4 linked regions of the Homo sapiens genome follow. The protein of the gene in region 4 interacts with the protein of the main gene of each other region in a pairwise test. Each region holds a gene or a part of one and is shown on either strand. Other genes may lie near its edges.

Region 1 (5,014 bases), on a different chromosome or scaffold from region 4:
TTACCTTTTTTTTGAAGTAGAGTCTCCCTCTGTCACCCAGGCTAGAGTGCAGTGACACTATCTCAGCTCACTGCAACCTCCAATTCCCAGGTTCAAGCAATTCTCCTGCCTCAAGTCTCCCAAGTAGCTGGGATTACAGGCACAGGCCACCACGCCCAGCTAGTGTTTCACCATATTGGCCAGGCTGGTCTCAAACTCCTGACCTCAAGTGATCTGCCTGGCACAGTCCCCAAAGTGCTGGGATTACAGGTGTGAGCCACCGTGACTGGTCCCCTATTATTAGTTTCTTAAACAATTTATCTTCCCTCATTAACCCACCTCTGTAGTAATCTATCACTACACGTAACACATAGAGAAACACTGCTATTAAATTTCAACTACATCAGCAGTTCTCAAACTTTAGCTTGCATCACCATCACCTAGAAGGCTTGTTAAAACAGACAGCCAGACCCCATCCCCAGAGTTTGATTCATAGGACTACTGCCATAGCAATTCAACAAGTCAGTGTAATTTAAACTTACAGCTCAAGGAGATCAGCTGGGAAAATATAAAAGTCCAAAAGAAATAAATCTAAACTATATCAAACACTTTAATAACTTCAAAACACATGTGCCTGCACACATCATGCACAGGCTTGTACACCCTCTTCCTCCTCTCCCAATTAATGAACATAACCACAATATGCACACCTGAATTCAATTTCTTGGAAAAAATGAACATCTCCAATTAACTGAGGTTTTTAAAATGATGTTAAACGAATAAAACACTTAATGTAAAAAAGGACCAACCTAGTATTTCAACTCCCTCATTTTCAGTCCCAGATTAAAAACAAAACAAGGCCGGGCAAGGTGGCTCACTGTGATCCCAGAACTTTGGGAGGCCGAGGCGGGCAGATCACCTGAGGTCGGGAGTTTGAGACCAGCCTGACCAACATGGAGAAACCCCCATCTCTACTAAAAATACAAAATTAGCCAGGCGTGGTGGCATACGCCTGTAATCCTAGCTACTCAGGAGGCTGAGGCAGGAGAATCGCTTGAACCTGGGAGGCAGAGGTTGCAGTGAGCTGAGATCGCGTCATTGCACTCCAGCCTGGGCAACAAGAGAGAAACTCCATCTCAACAACAACAACAAAAAGTGTGGCTGGGCACCGTGGCTCATGCCTATAATCCCAACACTCTGGGAGGCCAAGGTAGGTCGATCATTTGAGGTCAGGAGTTCGAGACCAGCCTGGCCAACATGGTGAAACCTCATCTCTAATAAAATACAAAAAATAGCTGGGTGTGGTGGCGCGTGCCTGTAATCCCAGTTACTTGAGAGGCTGAAGCAGGAGAATCGCTTGAACCCTGGAAGTGGAGGTTGCAGTGAGCCAAGATCAGGCCACTGCACTCCAGCCTGGGTGACACAGTGAGACATGTATAAAAAAAAAAAAAAAAAATTTGAAGGTTCTGAGATATTAACTAGACAGAGTAAAAACCAGGGCTATAACTGACTCCCCAATCAGTAAACAATATGCTAGAATAGTACACTGTTGACCGGGCACGGTGGCTCATGCCTGTAATCCCAGCACTTTGGCAGGCCGAGGTGGGCGGATCACGAGGTCAGGAGATCCAGATCATCCTGGCTAACATGGTGAAACCCCATCTCTACTAAAAAATACAAAAAAATTAGCCAGGCATGGTAGCGGCTGCCTGTAGTCCCAGCTACTCGGGAGGCTGAGGCAGAAGAATGGCGTGAACCCAGGAGGCGGAGCTTGCGGTGAGCCGAGATCGCACCACCGCACTCCAGCCTGGGCAACAAAGCGAGACTCCGTCTCAAACGAAAAAAAAAAAAAGAATAGTACACTGTCTTCCTTAGTTTAGGCTTGCAACCTCAACTTGAGGTTCTTTAATTAAATCTCTTAATTAAATAAGTGAAATACAGCTTTCGAACCAACAGCCAACAGAAAATTTCTTCAGTAAGGCTTAGATATTTTTTTCTTTAAAATGAGTTATTTGGCTGGGCACGGTGGCTCACGCCTGTAATCCCAGCACTTTGGGAGGCCAAGGCAGGCGGATCACGAGGTCAAGAGGTTGAGACCATCTGACCAACATGGTGAAACCCAGTCTCTACTAAAAATACAAAAATTAGTTGGGTGTGGTGGCGCGCACCTGTAGTCCCAGCTTCTCAGGAGGCTGAGGCAGGAGAATCGCTTGAACCCAGGAGGCAGAGGTTGCACTGAGCCAAGATCACGCCACCACTGCTCTCCAGCCTGGCAACAGAGCAAGACTCCGTCTCCAAAAAAAAAAAAAGTTATTTAGCATAACAGATCTTATAAAAGCAAGATACCTATCCACTGTTTTTTATACCTCCTCTGACCACTCACATTCAATAGTCCCAGGTCCATATTCCTCTCGGCACACACTCTAAATATGGTACAGGTTGAGTATTCCTTATCCAAAATACTTGAGACCAGAAGTTTTTCAGATTTGGAATATTTAATTATACTTACAATCAACATCCCTAATCTGAAAATCCGAAATCCAAAATGCTGCAGTGAGCATTTCCTTTGAGCATCACAACGGTGCTCAAAAAGTTTTGGATTTCCAGGCCTACCATTTTGAGAGGCTGAGGTTCAAGGAGCGCTTGAGGCCAGGAGTTTGAGACTGGCCTGGGCAACAGAGCAAGACCCTGTGTCTCTACAAAAAAGAAAAAAAATTAGCTAGGAGTGGTGCCACACACCTATAGTCCTAGCTACTCAGGAGGCTGAGGCGGGAGAATCACTTTAGCTCAGGAAGTTGAGGTTGCAGTGAGCTATGATCTTGCCATTGCACTTCAGTCTGGGCAACAACACAAAGTGATTTCAGAGCATTTCTGATTTTTTGATTAGGTATACCCAATCTGTGCCCCTAAGAGCTGCTGCTCTTCTCACTCTACTCACCCTGCCTGAGTCAAAATCGTGACAGTGGATTAACTATCACTATTCCAGTGGTTTGGTTATCACTAGAAGGCTAAAATACAGAGATGCTAAGGTTTCACCTCAGACTTCATTAATGAGTAAGAATCTCTGGAAGTGGAGTTCAAGGACCTCCATATTCCCTATCCCTATATGCTCCTTAGGCAAGGAGCATATCCTCTGCTTAACATAATGCCTGGCATACTTAGAAAGCACAATCAACATTTGCTGAACACTGTTGTGGAAAAACAAAATGGCAAGTTTAAATACTCCCAACTGCAGAATTGAACAGGGTTCTTTTAATAAATTACCTAGCTACTTATATAGTTACATTAGAAAACTACTTTTTAGGCTGGGCGCGGTGGCTCAAGACTGTAATCCCAGCACTTTGGGAGGCCCAGCTGTGTGGATCACCTGGGTTCAGGAGTTCAAGACCAGCCTGGCCAACATGGTGAAACCCCCTCTCTACTAAAAAATACAAAAAGTAGCTGGGTGTGGTGGTGCACACCTGTAATCCCAGCTACTCGGGAGGCTCAGGCAGGAGAATTGCTTGAACCCAAGAGGCGGAGGTTGCAGTGAGCTGAGATCACGCCACTGCACTCCAACCTGGGCAGCAGAATGAAACTCTGTCTCAAAATAAACAAATAACAAAAAACACCCTGGCCAGGCATGGTGGCTCACACCTGTAATCCCAGCACTTTGGGAGGCCGAGAAGGGCAGATCACTTGAGGCCAGGAGTTCAGTACCAGCATGATGAACATGGGGAAACCCTGTAACACAAGAATTAGCTGGGCCTGGTGGCAGGTGCCTGTAATCCCAGATACTGGGGTAGGGGGGGAAGCTGAGGCAAGGGGAATCTCTTGAACCTGGGAGGGAGAGGTTGCAGTAAGCTGAGATCACGCGACTGCACTACAGCCTGGGTGACAGAGTGAGGCTGTCTCCAAACAAAACAAAATAAAAAACTCTGATTTTTTTTTTCCTTAAAAGCTGAAAAGGTAAGCTAGGTAGCCACAAAGCATTTAAACAAAAGACCAAATTAAATAAAGTTTAATTGTTTAATTTGGTCTTTTATTTAAATGTTAATTGGGAAATTATAGAAAGCCAGAAAACCAAGTTTTCTGAAAGAAAATAATGTTGACTTATTTGAAGACCAAACCTAACCTGCAAATATCCACAAATAACAGTATTTATGTTGTTGCCCAGAACTCCTCTCCCAGAAAAAGTAATCAAATTCCCAAGGAAATATTAAATTAATTTGGTTATCTTTTTACATTTCAAACTTTTTCACCTGCAAATGTATCTTACCTGATTTCACACTGAAAATTAGAACTGAGAACAGGGAATTTAAATGTTTAAGAGTTAACAGTAAGCTCTCTAATGCAAACTAAGTAAAATTCAGTGTTTATCAAACCAACATTAAAAACCTAGATAACTGCTATTTCCAACCTCTATTAATAGAAAGAAGTCTTACAAACCAGTAAGAGATAAATATCCCAAAGAGGGGCAATGGGCAAAAGAGAATAAAATGAGCAAAAAGCGAGGGGCAATTTAAAAAAGAAATACCAAGCCCAATAAACATAAATTCAATCTCACCAGGTTTTTTTTGCCCATCAAACACTGGTTGGGAAAACTAGCATAACTTTTCTGAAAGCAATGTGGTAGTATGTATCAAATGCATTGAAAATGAGCAAATTCTTTTGACTCAGCAATTCACTTTATCCCAAGAAAATAAGAACACTCAAAGACTGACCTATGAGGATATTTTCAATATTTATAAAAGCCAGAAACTAGAAAATAAAAAGGAAGGCAAATAACAGATTGATTAAATAAATTAGTTCAGATCTATAATCATATAAGTTCTCGAAAAATTTACTTGACAGAAGGTTGTTCAGAGTATTTCTGTAATGTTTTTCCACTGAAAACACAAACAGAACATACAGTATGGTTCCACTGTTATTAACGTGGAACCATATTAATGGCTATCCAAAGGTCTAGAAAAATAACTACAGTTCGCATTTTGTTGTACGTCTCTGGGTGGCAGGCTTGTTTTGTCTTTTTATTTTTTCTTACCTAATCAGATTT
Region 2 (5,014 bases), on a different chromosome or scaffold from region 4:
TCAAGCGATCCTCCCGCCTCAGCCTCCTGAGTAGCTGGGATTATAGGCGAGCACCACCATGCCTGGCTAATTTTTTATTTTTAGTAGAGATGCGGTTTCACCATGTTGCCCATGCTGGTCTTGAACTTCTGGGCACAAGAGATCCACCCACCTCAGCTTCCCAAAGTGCTGGGACTACAGGCATGAGCCACCGCACCTGGCCCCCACTCCATTCTTTAGCCTCCATATTACTCTATTAAAACGATTATCCACTGCACAACTACTATAAGCACATTAATAAAGGCCTTAATTCTATTTTGACAAAAGGCAATGGTTGCACCATAGCTTAATATCCACTAGTAGTCATTATTCCTGAAGACTAGTAGTCTTCAGCCCTTAGGAGCAACATTCTACACATAAGTGATTCACAACCAGGGTATCTAACCATGATAATTTTCTATGTCTGCATATGTGTATCACTGTATGTATGTGGGAGGGGGACAAGGAAAGGGGATATAGTCACAGCAAGAGATCCCTATTGAAAGACATTTTGCTGACCAAGAAGTTTTCAATCTAACTCAGAATCCCAACAGTAGTACTGCTTTGTGGAGATAATTACTGAACTTTGATCTACTTCATTGTTCATTCACTTGACATGAATCATTAAATAAACTTTGACATCACCCCAATTCCAACATGACAGATAACAGTAAAGCTTCTGTGTTAAATGTTATGGTATATACCTGCATTTAACATGGCTTAAGGTAGAAAAAAGATAAAACTGAGTTGCAACTGAGAAACCCTGAATAGTGAATAATAAAAAATAACGAAAAACTGACATGACTACTTCTGGAATTTTCCCCCAAACTCCATCAATTTCTATGACTAAAAAAGTCTTACTTTCACATGACATCAACATGTGGATTAAATTCATAGTTTTATATAACAGTGATAGCAGGAGAAAGAACCATGTAGCAGCAAGCAAATATCAGACTTCCCTCTTATAAACTGTGTGATTTTTTTTTTTTTTGAGATGGAGTCTTGCTCTGTCTCCCAGGCTGGAGTACAGTGGCACAGTCTCCGCTCATTGCAACCTCCACCTCCCAGGTTCAAGCCGATTCTCCTAACTCAGCCTCCCAAGTAGCCAGGATTACAGGTGCCCGCCACCACACCCGGCTGATTTTTGTATTTTTAGTAGAGACAGGGTTTCACCATGTTGGCCAGGCTGGTCTCGAACTCCTGACCTCAGGTGATCCACCCACCTCAGCCTCCCAAAGTGCTGGGATTACAGGCATCAGCCACACTGCCAGGCCAACTGTGTGATTTTTAAAGTAAGTTACTTGATCTCCCTTTGTCTTTAGTTTTCTCATCTGTAAAACACAGATAATACTGTGTTTTCAGAGTTAAATAAAATTATATAATAAAATGCTTAGCATATAATAGCGATTTTAAAATACGTTTCCATCCAATTATTTTTCCTTTTAAAAAATGTTAACATCACCCTGCCTTGACCATTGTTGAAACAAGCATCAGTATGTTGCTACCATTAACTGTGCACAGTGGCATGCATCTGTACTCCCACCTACTCTGGAGGCTGAGGCAGAAGGATCCTTTGAGCCTATCAGGTCAAGGCTATACTGCATTACGATTGTCTCTGCGAATAGCCATTGTATCCCAGCCTGGACAACACAGCAAGACCTCATAAAAAACAAAACAAAACAAAAAAAAAAAGCCACCTTAGTCTGGGCGCAGTGGCTTACATCTATAATCCCAGCACTTTGGGAGGCCGAGGTGGGTGGATCACTTGAGGTCAGCAATTCGAGACCAGCCTGGCCAACGTGGTGAAACACTGTCTCTACCAAAAATACAAAAATTAGCCACGCGTGCTGACAGGCACCTGTAATCCCAGCTACTTGGGAGGATGAGACAAGAGAATCACTTGAACCTGGGAGGCAGAGGTTGCAGTGAGCTGAGATCATGCCATTGCACTCCAGCCTGGGCAACAGAGTGAGACACCGTCTCAAGAAAAAAAAAAAAAAGCCAACTTATTATCAATAAGGACATGAAAAGATACTCAATATCACTAGTCAACCTACTAGAATGGCTATAACTGGAAAAAAGGAAAACAACAAGTGGTGGCAAGGGTGTAGAAAAAGTGGAACCCTGATACTTTGCTGCTAAGGGAATGTAAAATGGTACAGCCACTTTGGAAAACACTTTAGTGTTTCTTCAAAAAATTAAATATGGAATTACAACAACCCAGCAATTCCACTCCTAGATATATACCCAAAAGAACTGAAAATAGGAGTACACTAATACTCATAGCAGCATTGTTTATAATAGCCAAAAGGTGAAAACAAATGCAGTATCCATCAATGAATTAATATACAAAATGTGGTACATTAAATATGATTCAGCCATAAAAATGATACATTCTACAACATGTATGAACCTTGAAAACATTACGCTAAGTGACATAAGTCAGACACAAAAGGCTAAATATTACACGATTCCAATCACACGAAAGATCTAGAATAGGTAAATTCACAGAGACAAAAAGTAGAGGCTGGGCACAGGGGCTCACGCCTGTAATCCCAACACTTTGGGAGGCCAAGGCAGGTGGATCAAGACCATCCTGGCCAACATGGTGAAACCCTGTCTCTATTAAAAATACAAAAATTAGCTGGGCGTGGTGGTACATGCCTGTAGTCCCAGCTACTCGGGAGGCTGAGGCAGAATTGCTTGAACCTGGGAGGCAGAGGTTGCAGTGAGCTGAGATCGTGCCACTACATTCCAGCCTCCATCTCAAAAAAAAAAAAAAAAAAAGTAGATTAGTGGTTACCAGGGGCTGGGTTGAGAAGAGAATGAACAGTCACTGCTTAACAGCTACAGAGTTTGTTTGGGATGGTAAAAAATACAAAAAATACAAAAATACAAAAATTAGCTGGGCATAGTGGTGCGTGCCTGTAATCCCAGCTACTCAGGAGGATGAGGCACGAGAATCGCTTGAACCCAGGAGGAGGAAGTTGCAGTGAGCTGAGATCGCGCCACTGCACTCCAGCCTGGGCGACAGAGCGAGACTGCATTTCAAAAAAAAAAAAGGCATTAGAAAGTCATCGTCTTGATCGAAATCTTCATATTGTTTCCCATTTTCAACAAACTTAATTCTAGAACCTTGCAGGTTTGACCATTAGCAAAAATTAGTAGTTTACATAAATTTAAACATAGGGGAAACTAGGTGCAGGGTTTAAGGGATTTCTCTGTACTACAATTACAAATTTTCTGTAAATTGGTAACTTCATGATTTTTCTATAAACTTTCTAAAAAAGTTTATTAATAAAAAAGAGACATGTTATTGAATCTCAAAAGTGTTATGCTAAATGAAAGAAGCCAGTCTCAAAAGGCTATATACACTGTGTGATGCCAATTTATATGGCATTTTGGGAAAGGCCAAACTATAGGGATAAAAAACAAATGAGCTGTTGCCAGGGAGTGAGGGGTGGGCTGAAGGGATTTACTTCAAAAGGGCATAATTATGGAAATTTTTGGAGTGATGGAAATATTCTATATCTTGTATCTTAATTGTGGTGGTGGCAGTTACACAACTGTCACTGTTTTTTGTAATTCATCTGTTTTAGCAGAACTATACAGAACTTTACACCTAAAACAGATGAATTTTACTAAGTGTAAATTATACCTTAATAAGTATGACTTTTCAAAAAGAATCCTTAACAATGGTAGTATCATGTCATACATTTCAATACACACAGAATTCTAGCCTGATAAATGTCATTATGAGATCTAGTCAGATGAAACTAGGCGATTCAAGCCGGGCACGGTGGCTCATGCCTGTAATCCCAGCACTTTAGGAGGCAGATGTGGGCGGATCACTTCAGGTCAGGAGTTCAAGACCAGCCTGGCCAACATGGTGAAATCCCGTCTCTACTAAAAACCCAAAAATTAGCCAGATGTGGTGGCAGACGCCTGTAATCCCAGCTACTCAGGAAGCTGAGACAGGAAAATCGCTTGAACCTGTGAGGCGGAGGTTGCAGTGAGCCAAGATCGTGCCACTGCACTCCAGCCTGGGTTACAGAGCGATATTCTATCTAAAAAATAAAAATAAAAAATAAGCCTTGAAAACCCCTCCCTAGGCCTGGTGTGGTGGCTCATGCCTGTCATCCCAGCACTTCAGGAGGCCGAGGCAGGCAGATCATGAGGTCAAAAGATTGAGACCATCCTGGCCAACATGGTGAAACCCCATCTCTACTAAAAATACAAAAATTAGCCGGGCGTGGTGACGTGTGCCTGTAATCCCAGCTACTTGAGAAGCTGAGGCAGGAGAATCACTTGAGCCTGGGAGGCAGAGGTTGCAGTGAGCCAAGATCGCACCACTGCACTACAGCCTGGTGAAAGAACGTGACTCCGTCTCAAAAAAAAAAAAAAAAAAGAAAAAAGAAAAAAAAAAAGAAAAGCTTTCCCTAAACCTACGTTTTATGTTCCCTTAGCTAAGTTTTCCCTTAAGTTGTTCTCTGTGCATTGAAATAACACTATCCTTAACACCTCATCATCTTCTTCTTCCTATAGTAAGGATTTACAATCTAAACTCTTTACTCAAAAATCTTGTCTAATTAACTCTTATCTATTTTCCATTTGACTATATTATCCCTTACATCTTTTCTTTCCCGTAACAAATTTTTTTAAATAACTGAAGTACTTTTTGCTACATGGATTGTAGTTAGTTGGTCTCTCCTAGTTGGAATATAAACTTCCCAAAGGCAGGAAGTAACTATTTCTTTATACACTCCAAAAATCTGGTTTGTACTATGTATCTAAACACTCAAATGCCATATGAAGAGATTCAATGAAAAGAATACTGGGGCCCGGGGCGGTGGCCCACACCTGTAATCCCAGCACTTTGGGAGGCAGAGGCGGGCAGATCGCCTTAGGTCAGGAGTTCAAGACCAGCCTGGCCAAAATGGTGAAACCCCATCTCTACCAAAAATACAAAAATTATCCGGGCATGGTGGCATGCACC
Region 3 (5,014 bases), on a different chromosome or scaffold from region 4:
GAGAAAAGGGAATGCCTATACACTGCCGGTGAGAATGTAAATTAGTTCAGCCACTGTGGAAGGCAGTTTGATTTCCCAAAGAACTTAAAACGGAACTACCATTCTGCCCAGCAATCCATTACTGGGTATATACCCAGAGGAATATAAATCGTTTTACCAAAAAGACACATGCACTTGTATGTTTATTGTGGCACTGTTCACAAGAGCAAAGACATGGAATCAACCTAGATGCCCATCAGTGGTGGACTTAATAAAGAAAATATGGTACATATACATCATGGGATACTATACAGCTATTTAAAAAAAACAAAACCGAAATCATGTCCTTTGCAGCAACATGGATGCAGCTGGAGGTCATTATCCTAAGTGAATTAAAGCAGGAACAGAAAGCCAAGTACCACGTGTTCTCACTTAAAAGTGGGAGCTAAACATTGAGTACACATGGGCATAAACATGGACACGAGGGCTTACTTGAGGTGGTGAGGGTAAGAGGAGGATGAGGGTCAAAAAACTGCCTATCTTGTACTATGGTCAGTTGCTGGGTGACGAAATAATCAGTACACCAAATTCCAGTGACACAGTTTGTCCGTGTAACAAATGTACATATGTGCCCCCAAACCTAAAATCAAAAAAAATATGTGTAGAAAACAAAGAGCAAAATGAAGGACCTAAAACCTAAAAACCATTTATAGTCAATATATAAAAAGGCTTAATACCCCAGTTAAAATCAGATATGGATAAATTTTATAAAAACAAAGTAAACAAAGAGGGTACTGACTCTTGTGATAGTTGGATACCAAGAACCATCCCTCACTGGGGCATGCTGTGGCTCACACCTGTTATACCAACACTTTGGGAACCCAAGGCAGGAGAGGATTGCTTGAGCCCAGGAGTTTGGCACTAGCCTGGGCAACAAAGTGAGACCCTATCTCTACAAAAATTAAAAAAATTAGCCAGGGGTGGTGGTGTGTGTCTGTGGTCCTAGCTACTCAGGAGGCTGAGTCGGGGAAGATTGCTCAAGCCCGGGAGGTCGAGGCTGCAGTGAGCTGTGATTGTGCCATTACACTCCAGTCTGGGTGACAGAGCAAGAGCTTATCTCAAAAAAGAAAAAGACTCCATGATTTAATCTAATCAACTTCAAAAACCCAACTCATTCCTCCACACGCCCTGTGCCTTGGCCATAGCATTTACCTCACCATTCTCCTATGCATTATCTATTTTTAGACCTCTGTCTCCCTTTGTTTAAAATGTTCTCCCAGCCTGGATAACATAGCAAGACCCTGTCTCAACAAAAAAAATAAAAATTAGCTGGGTATGGTGGCATGTGCTTGTAGTCCTAGCTACTTGGGAGGCTGAGGTGGAAGAATTACTTGAGCCCAGGATATTTGAGGTTACAGTGAGCTATGGTTGTGCCACTGTACTCCAGCCTGGGCAACAGAGACCCAGTCTGGATGAGAGAGAAGAGAGAGGGGAGAGAGGAGAGAAAAAAGAAAAGAAAAGAAAAAGAAAAAGAAAGAAAGAACCCATCATCTATGAGTGCTGTCCTCACTGAACACCAGAGGCTGGGTATTGAGTTTACATCAGCTTTTAATGAGCTCTCACTAGGTTTCTTCACCCATTCAATGGGAAGGTCTGCTTCAGAGCCATAATTGTGTTCAACGGGACTAGGTTGCAAGGTTTAATAACTCTTCTCTTCTTTTTAAAATTTAATTACTTTATTATTTCACCTTTTTTTTTAAAGCCACATGTAGGCTGAATTCATTTAATTTGACAGAATAACACTCCTTACTGCTAATCCTGATCAATTTTAGCTTTGTGTGTCTTTGGGTTGGATCCACTCAGATAAGAGGACAAAAGAGGGCCGGGCATGGTGACTAGTGCCTGTAATCCTAGCACTTTGGGAGGCCAAGGTGGGCGGATCACCTGAGGTCAGGACTTCAAAACCAGCCTGGCCAACATGGTGAAACCCCTGTCTCTACTAAAAATACAAAAATTAGCCTGGCGTGGTGGTGGGCGCCTCTAATCTAAGCAATTTAGTGATTTGAGCTGGGCTCGGGAGGCTGAGGCAGGAGAATCGCTTGAAAACCCAGGAGGCGGAGCTTGCAGTGAGCTGAGATCGTGCCATTGCACTCGCAAAAAGAGCGAGACTCCATCTCAAAAAAAAAAAAAACCATTCAAAAAGAGGACAAAAGGTTCATTTGGAAAGAGGATATTAAGAAATAAGGAGAAATCATGAAGGGAATTTTAAAATGAAAACATATTTAGTGGCATTGTTTTCTGTTAGGTTTCAAAAAAGTCTCCATTCCAAGTGAGTATTGGTTTAGGAATTTCTTTCTCCTTATTAAAAGTGTTTTCCTATTTACAGTGAAAATAACTTTAGTAAAATTTTGTGAGTACTAAACTTGGATTTTAAAATCAGAGATTTCGATTATATAGTCTGGAGCCTCAGGATTTTAAGTTTCTGTAGGATTGGGTAAAATGCCATTGTAGATTTTTTGGTCATCAGATTATAGAATAAATACTTAAAGTAACTTCAGATTATTATTTTCAAAACCATAGCAGAAACTCTTACCTTACCTATCTTATTGAGAGACAATGTGAAGCCAAGACTAATGGAGTTAGTGTGCTACATTGATGATGAATGACTGGGTAGTACACCACAGAGGGCTGTGTCATGGAGTGTAAAGGTGTTATTCCATTCCTACACCCTACCATCCGTCTTTCCCCATTAAATCAAGGTCAGGGAATGTTACCTTATGTGATTAAATCTGGTAGAGTCATCATTAAACAGGTGAGATAAATCATATGCAGAGTAACCTACTTTTGGTATTGATGAGACTAGGGTGGTTCTTAAGTATTTTATGGAGATCAGGGTATCTTCCTAAATCCAGATGAAGAGATCAGGTTAAGAACTGCTCGCTTTCAGGCTCCACCTGAAGAAACTATGTAGTAGGCTTCTCTCCCTCTACTTATTTTATCATCTTCTTTGATCTAATAAAATGTTTTCCTTATCAATAAGTAATGTTATCTAGTTTGGCTCTACCAGGTGCTAGAGAAGGCATTCATCATTGTATTGTACTTGCAATAACTCTAATACAGGAAAATGTTCAAACCACCCATAATAAAAGTAGCTAAAAAGCAGATTTCTTAAAGACTTTGTGACCGTTTAAGCTCAGCTGACCTTTCTAAGTTGCATGATTCTTAGAAAGGTCCCAGAGAGATGTCTATCTGGTGCTATATAGCAGTTGCTAATTAAATATTTTTTAATTGAATGATTGATATGAGTTGAACACCCAGTAATTATATTTAAAAAGTGATGACTTCAGTGTTTTGACGCCTTTAAAAGGCTACAGTGGTACAAAATGTAGGTGCTACCATGTGAAATTTGAATGTACAGTGAAGTACATATATTCACTGCAATATCTAGAAATAAATATGTATTCTTATAGGTAGAGGCTAGTTTATCCTTGTAATTCTACTGATAAATATAAATGTATATATTGGGGAAATTTGTGGGACTTTTTCAGTATAAGGAAGAAAAAAATCTGAAAATTGAACTCACTGCAGAAGAAATTTTTTGTATTTTCGGGGGAAGTACCAACTAGATGTGCTAACACTTTGTATTTCTTTATGTTTAGTTGCCTCTTTTTTTTTTTTTTAAACGGAGTTTCCCTCTTTCACCCAGGCTGGAGTGCAGTGGCACGATCTCGGCTCACTGCATCCTCTGCCTTACAGTTTCAAGTGATTCTCCTGCCTCAGCCTCCCAAGTAGCTGGGATTACAGGTGCCTGCCACCACGCCTGGCTAATTTTTGTATTTTTAGTAGAGACGAGGGTTTCACCATGTTGGCCAGGTTGGATCTCTTCACATCCTACTGAGCAATAAATGAGATAGCCTAGAGCAGTGGTTTTCAATTTCAGGTAGTTTTGTTTCCCAGGGAACATTTGGCAAAGTCTGTAGACAATTTTTTATCTTTTTTTTGGAGACAGAGTCTGACTTTGTTGCCCAGGTTGGAGTGCAGTGGCATGATCACGGCTCACTGCGGCTTCCACCTCCTGGGCTCAAGCAATCCTCCCACCTCAGCCTCCCAACTAGCTGTACCACCACACCCGGCTAATTTTTTAATTTTTTGTAGAGACAGAGTCTCACTGTGTTGCCTAGGCTGGTGTCAAACTCCTGGCCTCAAGCAGTCCTGCTTCGGCCTCCCAAAGTATTGGGATGGTAGGTGTGAGCCACCACACCCAGCCTGTAGACATTTTTGATTTTTGGAACTAGGGGCTGGAGGAGGGTTGCTACTGTCATGCAGTGGGTGGAGGCCAGAGATGCTGCTGAACATGCTGCAGTGCACAGGATAGACCCCTCAAAACAAAGAATTATATTGGGCCCAAAAAGGTAAGAGGGCTGAGGTTGAGAAACCCTGGGATAGATAGAGGGATAGTCAGTGTCATCTTGTGCTAATTGTGTTTAAGGTTTTGTTTTGGTGTAGGTTTGATTTTTAATTTTGGGATCCCAGTGAATTTTCAGTAAGAAAATTGAGACCGTATAATTTTAGGCAAACCTCTGATGGGAGAGAGTGTTTAGAACAGGAACTAGGGCTCAGTTAGTGGCTGCAATTCCATTATAGCAGTATCTATTGGAGTTACTTTCTGTCTTTGGAGTTACTGAGACCAGAGGAATTGGATTACCCCTCTCAAGTTACATACTGTAAGGGCAACTTATAAAAGAAAACTATCCACATTTTTTTGTCAGTTGGGAATTAATTGAGATAGAAACACTGCATGTAATTTAGTAAGACAGCTGGAAATCCCAGTTTGAAAACAAAATGAAAAGCAGACAACAAGCCTAACTTTTAGTTTTGCTTTCTGTGTTTCTCTTATACCTCTCAGAAGTTTCATAAGCTCCAGAAATTTTGTGTTTAACCTTTTAGTTTCTTCAAATTCTTGGTTGAGAGGGTATATTGGAGTTATTAATCTTTGTTCTAAAATTCTTCGGGTGACTTCTCGCTGAGTCATCTG
Region 4 (5,014 bases):
GAGCACTGAAGATGGAAATTCAAAGCATGTTCTGCTTTCAGGCTACAAATAGGCCCTGAAGACTCACTCAGGTGGAATGCAGCAGCAGATACACCATTGACCAGAGAATCCTCCTCCTCCTGTACTGGAAAACTGTACCCTGTGACTGGGTACAGGGTTGCTGCCTGCAGAGGGGGAGAGAGGGAAGGGCCCTCCCCCAACCCTCTACAGCTGAGCACTGACTCAACCCCAAGCATCGCCCGGCTCCACTTGAGTTTGGGTTTGGAAATTCTTAGGAAAGGAAATGAGTGGGGTTTGGGGGGGCTCTGCTTTAAGAAATGCCCATGTCAACCACGTCAATGCCCAAGACCCCCTCAGTCTTCGGTTTTCTTTAATAGGCTACATCCCCAGAGTAAAAACCAGATCCATGTTCAAGAAATAGGTTGGAGACTCCTTGATCCCTGGCTCAAGCCAACTTCTGAGAACAGAGACACCCTGGAGTAGCGGAGGTGGGGTGGGGTGCACGGCCCCCTCCTGTATTACAAATCAATTCACAAAGTAGCGAACCCATCTTTGGACAGAAACCTCAACTGCAATCAGACTTCTGTTTATGACAGTAACTCGAGAAGCCTTTTCTCAAGGAGATGCCAACGCATGAAGTGGTTGTATTTATAGAAGTTAAACAAACCTCTTCTGAGAGGTCATAATACCTTACAGGAAATGGGGAGCCTCTGTTGTGTGAAAACTCTGGATAAAACTGGTCATAAAATAGTAACAATCATGAATATTCTTGCCTGCCTGCTTAAAAGAAAGAAAATTACCAACTGAGGTTAAACCATGAGTGTCTATAAAGTTGATTTATACCGTGAATCTAGAAAAGTTGGTCACATTGTGAAATATTTTTGATAGGACATGTATCTAAATGTGAATAAATTCAGCCCTTTTGAAAAGGAAAGTGGACTGCACTCTGATATTGGTAAAATTTCCAAAAATAAAGGTGTTTGCCCATTGGCAATATGATTATAGGGCTCTAGGCACGTATTTTAGACTGGGCAATGTCTTCTTTCTCACAAGACTGTTTTGCTTTAACTCCCTCCTTCGGCCTTCTTTCTAGAAAGTTTTGAAGGATAAAGCCCTTGATGAGAAGCTTGTCTGTTTTCTTCCAACCTGGATTTGGCCAGAGGCTGTCTCAGGACTCAGAGAGACAAATCCGAGGATGCACCTAGATCTTAAAGAGTGGAAATATCTGCAGTGATGAGCATTATTATGGTGAAGCAGAGAAGAGAAAGGAAAGCGAGGAGACAGGAAGGTCGGGAGTGCTCAGAGCACACTGCTGGATGGCTCGGCTCCTAAACCCACATGAGTCACTTTCCCTTTCTGCCACTGCAGAAACTAAATCTGTCTGCTGCCTCCTCCTAGGTCAACAGAGTGCTCATCCGCAACCTCAGTGTCAAAGAATTCTTCTTATTGGAGAGGGTATTTCTCATCCCCACCATGAAATATCAGTCATTTTTTACTGTCCTCCAATGTACCCTCTACAGACAGCCTGAGACGGCGCTAAGATTTTTGCAAATGTGTCCTCAGGTACAGAAAGAACATGTGTTTTGCTGCCATATCTCTTCAGCCTCTGTCATTCTTGGCTCATTTCCTGAAAGATTAAGGAAGCCATCCCAGCCCCTGAGGCTTTGAAATTCCAGTAGAGGCCACTCCCTGAACACCAGAGAGGCCAAGCTGTCCCACAGGCCTAGCCCAGGCCACCTGTCACCCAGCTGACATCCCCTCCAGCTTTGCAGTCATCTCTGCCCCTGCCTGGGCAAGTGAGCTGGGGAGGGTATAGACGTAGGGTTCAGGTATAACTGAGGGACGAGTCAGCAGCTAAGCCACTGAAAAGAACACTAACAGTGTCTGGGTGGCAGCCCCACTGGTGACCTATCTCAAAGTCACATACCATCACCCTGGACATTAGAAAATACTTCTCTAAAAACCTCAAGCTCAGCACCAAGTTAGTTTGATAAGTCTCTACATGTACTACAGGGATTAAAAAATAGAAATTTCTGGCCCTCTGAATATGAAGCTAAAGACACTAGTATTTCTGTGGAATTAAGAGATTCTCTTTCAAAAAGTTCAACAGATGTTTGCTTATCCTTTAAACTCAGCTTAAGTTCACTTCATCCAGGAAGCCATCTCTGACTGCCTTGCCACTCTGGGTTAGGTGTACCTTCTCTGTGCACCCAAAGTCCCTCTTTTGAATATTACCGTGATCCTTCCAACACACATTTTAATGACCTAGACTGTGAGCTCCTTAATGGTAGAGGAGGAAGCAGGTCTAGCTCATTTTGAATTCCAATAACCCAGCACAGAGGATTCCACGTTTGTTGAATGAATAAACGAATGAAGTCATTCTTTTTTTTTTTTTTGAGACAAAGTCTCGCTCTCACCCAGGCTGGAGTGCAGTGGTGCGATCTCAGCTCACTGCAAGCTCCACCTCCCAGGTTCATGCCATTCTCCTGCCTCAGCCTCCCAAGTAGCTGGGACTACAGGTGCCCACTACCATGCCCGGCTAATTTTTTTGTATTTTTAGTAGAGACGGGGGTTAGCCAGGATGGTCTTGATCTCCTGACCTCATGATCTGCCCGCCTCAGCCTCCCAAAGTGCTGGGATTACAGGTGTGAGCCACCACGCCGCGCCTAAATGAAGTCATTCTTTAAAAAAAGGTTTGATTCTAGAAGTTGCTAACAATCAGACAGATGTATGCGGCATTTCACTGTACCAATAAAAATCCTTGATATTTAAGAAGGTCAAAATTTTAAGTTTGAAATTTGAAAAGGAAAATAAGTATGGTATCTATTTTTTCTAGACCAGGGAGAGACAATTAATAATTAATCTCTTTTTAATGGCTAGGAAGAATTTCTTGATTGTTGAGACCTGCTGATGGTATTACAATGAAACATCGATTTGGCCTAACTGGGAGTGTTTCCAAGGCAACAGCGACTCTCAATCATGTCAAATTACAGCTGTTATCTCCCTGGGTGTCAGTTTCCCTTAGAAAGCTAATTGAAATTGAAAATGTCTATCTTCAGGCCAAAGTTTAACTTTTCTTTGGATTCATCTGTTTTATCAGACAAAAAGAGAAAGTAAGACAGAAAACAGAGAGAGAGAGACAGAGAGAATAGAAACCCCTGAAAAACAGCATAATTGTTTTTCATTTTTCTAAAGAAGGCTGGCAGAGGTGGACTCTCTAAAAGCCATACCACAGGGTTCACTAGCTGATTTTGTCACTCATTGGGCTAACGTTCCTCAAGTCAGGAAAAATTTTTCTTTTTCTTTTTCAAAGAAAAGTGAGATCTCATGTGGTGAGTTCTGGAGACACTTCAGTCTTCAGAACCCACAGCATCCCACTCAGACTGCAGGGGAACTCAGGAACGATACCTGCGGTTCATCCGGGGTGTGCACGAGTAAAACGTGGCAAAATAGGAAGGGGGAGGCACAGGCGGCACAAAATCATCAGGGTCGGGGATGCGTCCATGATCCTCCGCTTCTTCAGCAGAAATCTGGGATTCATCCTGATTAAACAGCAGCTCAGTTAGTCAACAGCCTTCATTACAAAGGCACGGGGAGAGAGGCAGTGGATGACACGAAGGGGTCCATGGGCTGGCTCAGCGGAAACGTGGCCATGATGCCCTTGCATAGACTTACGATGCAGGATCTCCTGGTTGCGAATATCTGGAGGTAGCGGAGGGCAGCGGCCACCAAGCAGACGGTGGTGGTCAGGGCATTCAAGGCACACAGGGCAAAGAGGACTTTCTGGGGCAAGGAAACAATGGCACCACTAAGTACTTCAACAAACATCACCAGAATACAATGTAGAAAATCTTTAAAATAATAATAACGCTGCCTCCATAAGACAATTCTCAGGAGAGGATGCATGTAAAGGACTTAGATGGTGTTTGGCTCGTGGAAAGTGCCCAAATAAATGCTGGCTATTATTATGACCCTCATGCAATAATGTGTACTTCTTAATTCCAAAAACTTATCTTAGAAGCTTTCTGTCACAGAACAACGTGGTATGATAGTATTTCTTTTTGCAAGCATCAGAATACTGTCGAGAAACATTCCTTCCAGGAGAGCAGTGAGCTTCTCTTCTGAGGCTGATTTCCCCAGGGATAGCAATTCCCAGCCTCCTCCCTCCCACAGCCTCCCACCAGCACAGCACACTGCTTAATTTGTGGCCACTAATTCTATTTCAAGAGCAATTGGCTGTGCTGCCCCATGCACACGACGAGGACACTGAAGGAGCTGGCCCAGCCAGAGTGTAAATAGGACTTCTCTCCACTAAACACACATCTCAAAATAGCAAAGGCCATTCCAAACGCTTCTGTTGGTACAGTCCTGGCTCCTTGAGTGGGGCTTTCCCCAAGCTAAGTCCTGGCTCAGAAAGTTTGGGGGTGACTCAGCTACCAAAAATGCAGAAGCCATGGAAAGCAGGCCATTTCCACATCCCACACAACCCAGAGCTGGTAGCTTGGAACAGTTCTCTCTTTCCTTGGAGATTCTTCCTCCCCACCAAAATGAAACCCAAAACAAATATCTAAAGAAAACCGGCAGAAGTGGACTCTCAAAAAGCCATACCTCAGGGTTCACCAGTTGATTTTGTCACTCACTGAGCTAATGTTCCTTAAGTCAGGGCACAATTTTTATCCAATTCCCTGATGAAGGCTAATTTTGTATTTCTCTTCAACTGGGATCATCTGTTTGTTTAATACCTTTGGCTTATTATAGTTGTTGCTTATTAAACAAGAGCTAAGGTGCTTCAATTCCCCCATATTTTCTGGCCAATCTCTCTCCTTAGTCTACGTGTTGCAGACTGGTAGTACTCAGTGGCCCATATGACCCATGTAAGCAAACAAATGAGCATCAGAACAATGACACACGAGTGTGCGACTTAAAGGTTTTGCTAAAAGCTACACCGTATATGTGTGTGTAGGTATACATATGTACGTATGCATATGTTTATATGTGGAAATATGTGTGTATG

Evidence for each region. The genes of interacting proteins can lie anywhere in the genome.
Region 1: the proteins of ENTREP1 (region 4) and ARIH1 interact in a two-hybrid assay, tested with the Homo sapiens proteins (one large-scale study listed by IntAct).
Region 2: the proteins of ENTREP1 (region 4) and PIK3C2A interact in a two-hybrid assay, tested with the Homo sapiens proteins (one large-scale study listed by IntAct).
Region 3: the proteins of ENTREP1 (region 4) and RNF115 interact in a two-hybrid assay, tested with the Homo sapiens proteins (one large-scale study listed by IntAct).

Annotation. Positions count from the first base shown.
Region 1 is NC_000015.10:72,476,685-72,481,698, reverse strand, and holds part of ARIH1 (E3 ubiquitin-protein ligase ARIH1), read right to left. Parts: intron 1-5,014. UniProt on the Homo sapiens protein: E3 ubiquitin-protein ligase, which catalyzes ubiquitination of target proteins together with ubiquitin-conjugating enzyme E2 UBE2L3.
Region 2 is NC_000011.10:17,197,118-17,202,131, forward strand, and holds part of PIK3C2A (phosphatidylinositol 4-phosphate 3-kinase C2 domain-containing subunit alpha), read right to left. Parts: intron 1-5,014.
Region 3 is NC_000001.11:145,813,227-145,818,240, reverse strand, and holds part of RNF115 (E3 ubiquitin-protein ligase RNF115), read left to right. Parts: intron 1-5,014. UniProt on the Homo sapiens protein: E3 ubiquitin-protein ligase that catalyzes the 'Lys-48'- and/or 'Lys-63'-linked polyubiquitination of various substrates and thereby plays a role in a number of signaling pathways including autophagy, innate immunity, cell proliferation and cell death.
Region 4 is NC_000009.12:69,376,139-69,381,152, reverse strand, and holds part of ENTREP1 (endosomal transmembrane epsin interactor 1), read right to left. Parts: intron 3,784-5,014; coding exon 3,676-3,783; intron 3,543-3,675; coding exon 3,409-3,542; intron 1-3,408. UniProt on the Homo sapiens protein: Functions as an activator of the E3 ubiquitin protein ligase ITCH in the ubiquitination of the CXCL12-activated CXCR4 receptor. Thereby, triggers CXCR4 endocytosis and desensitization, negatively regulating the CXCL12/CXCR4 signaling pathway.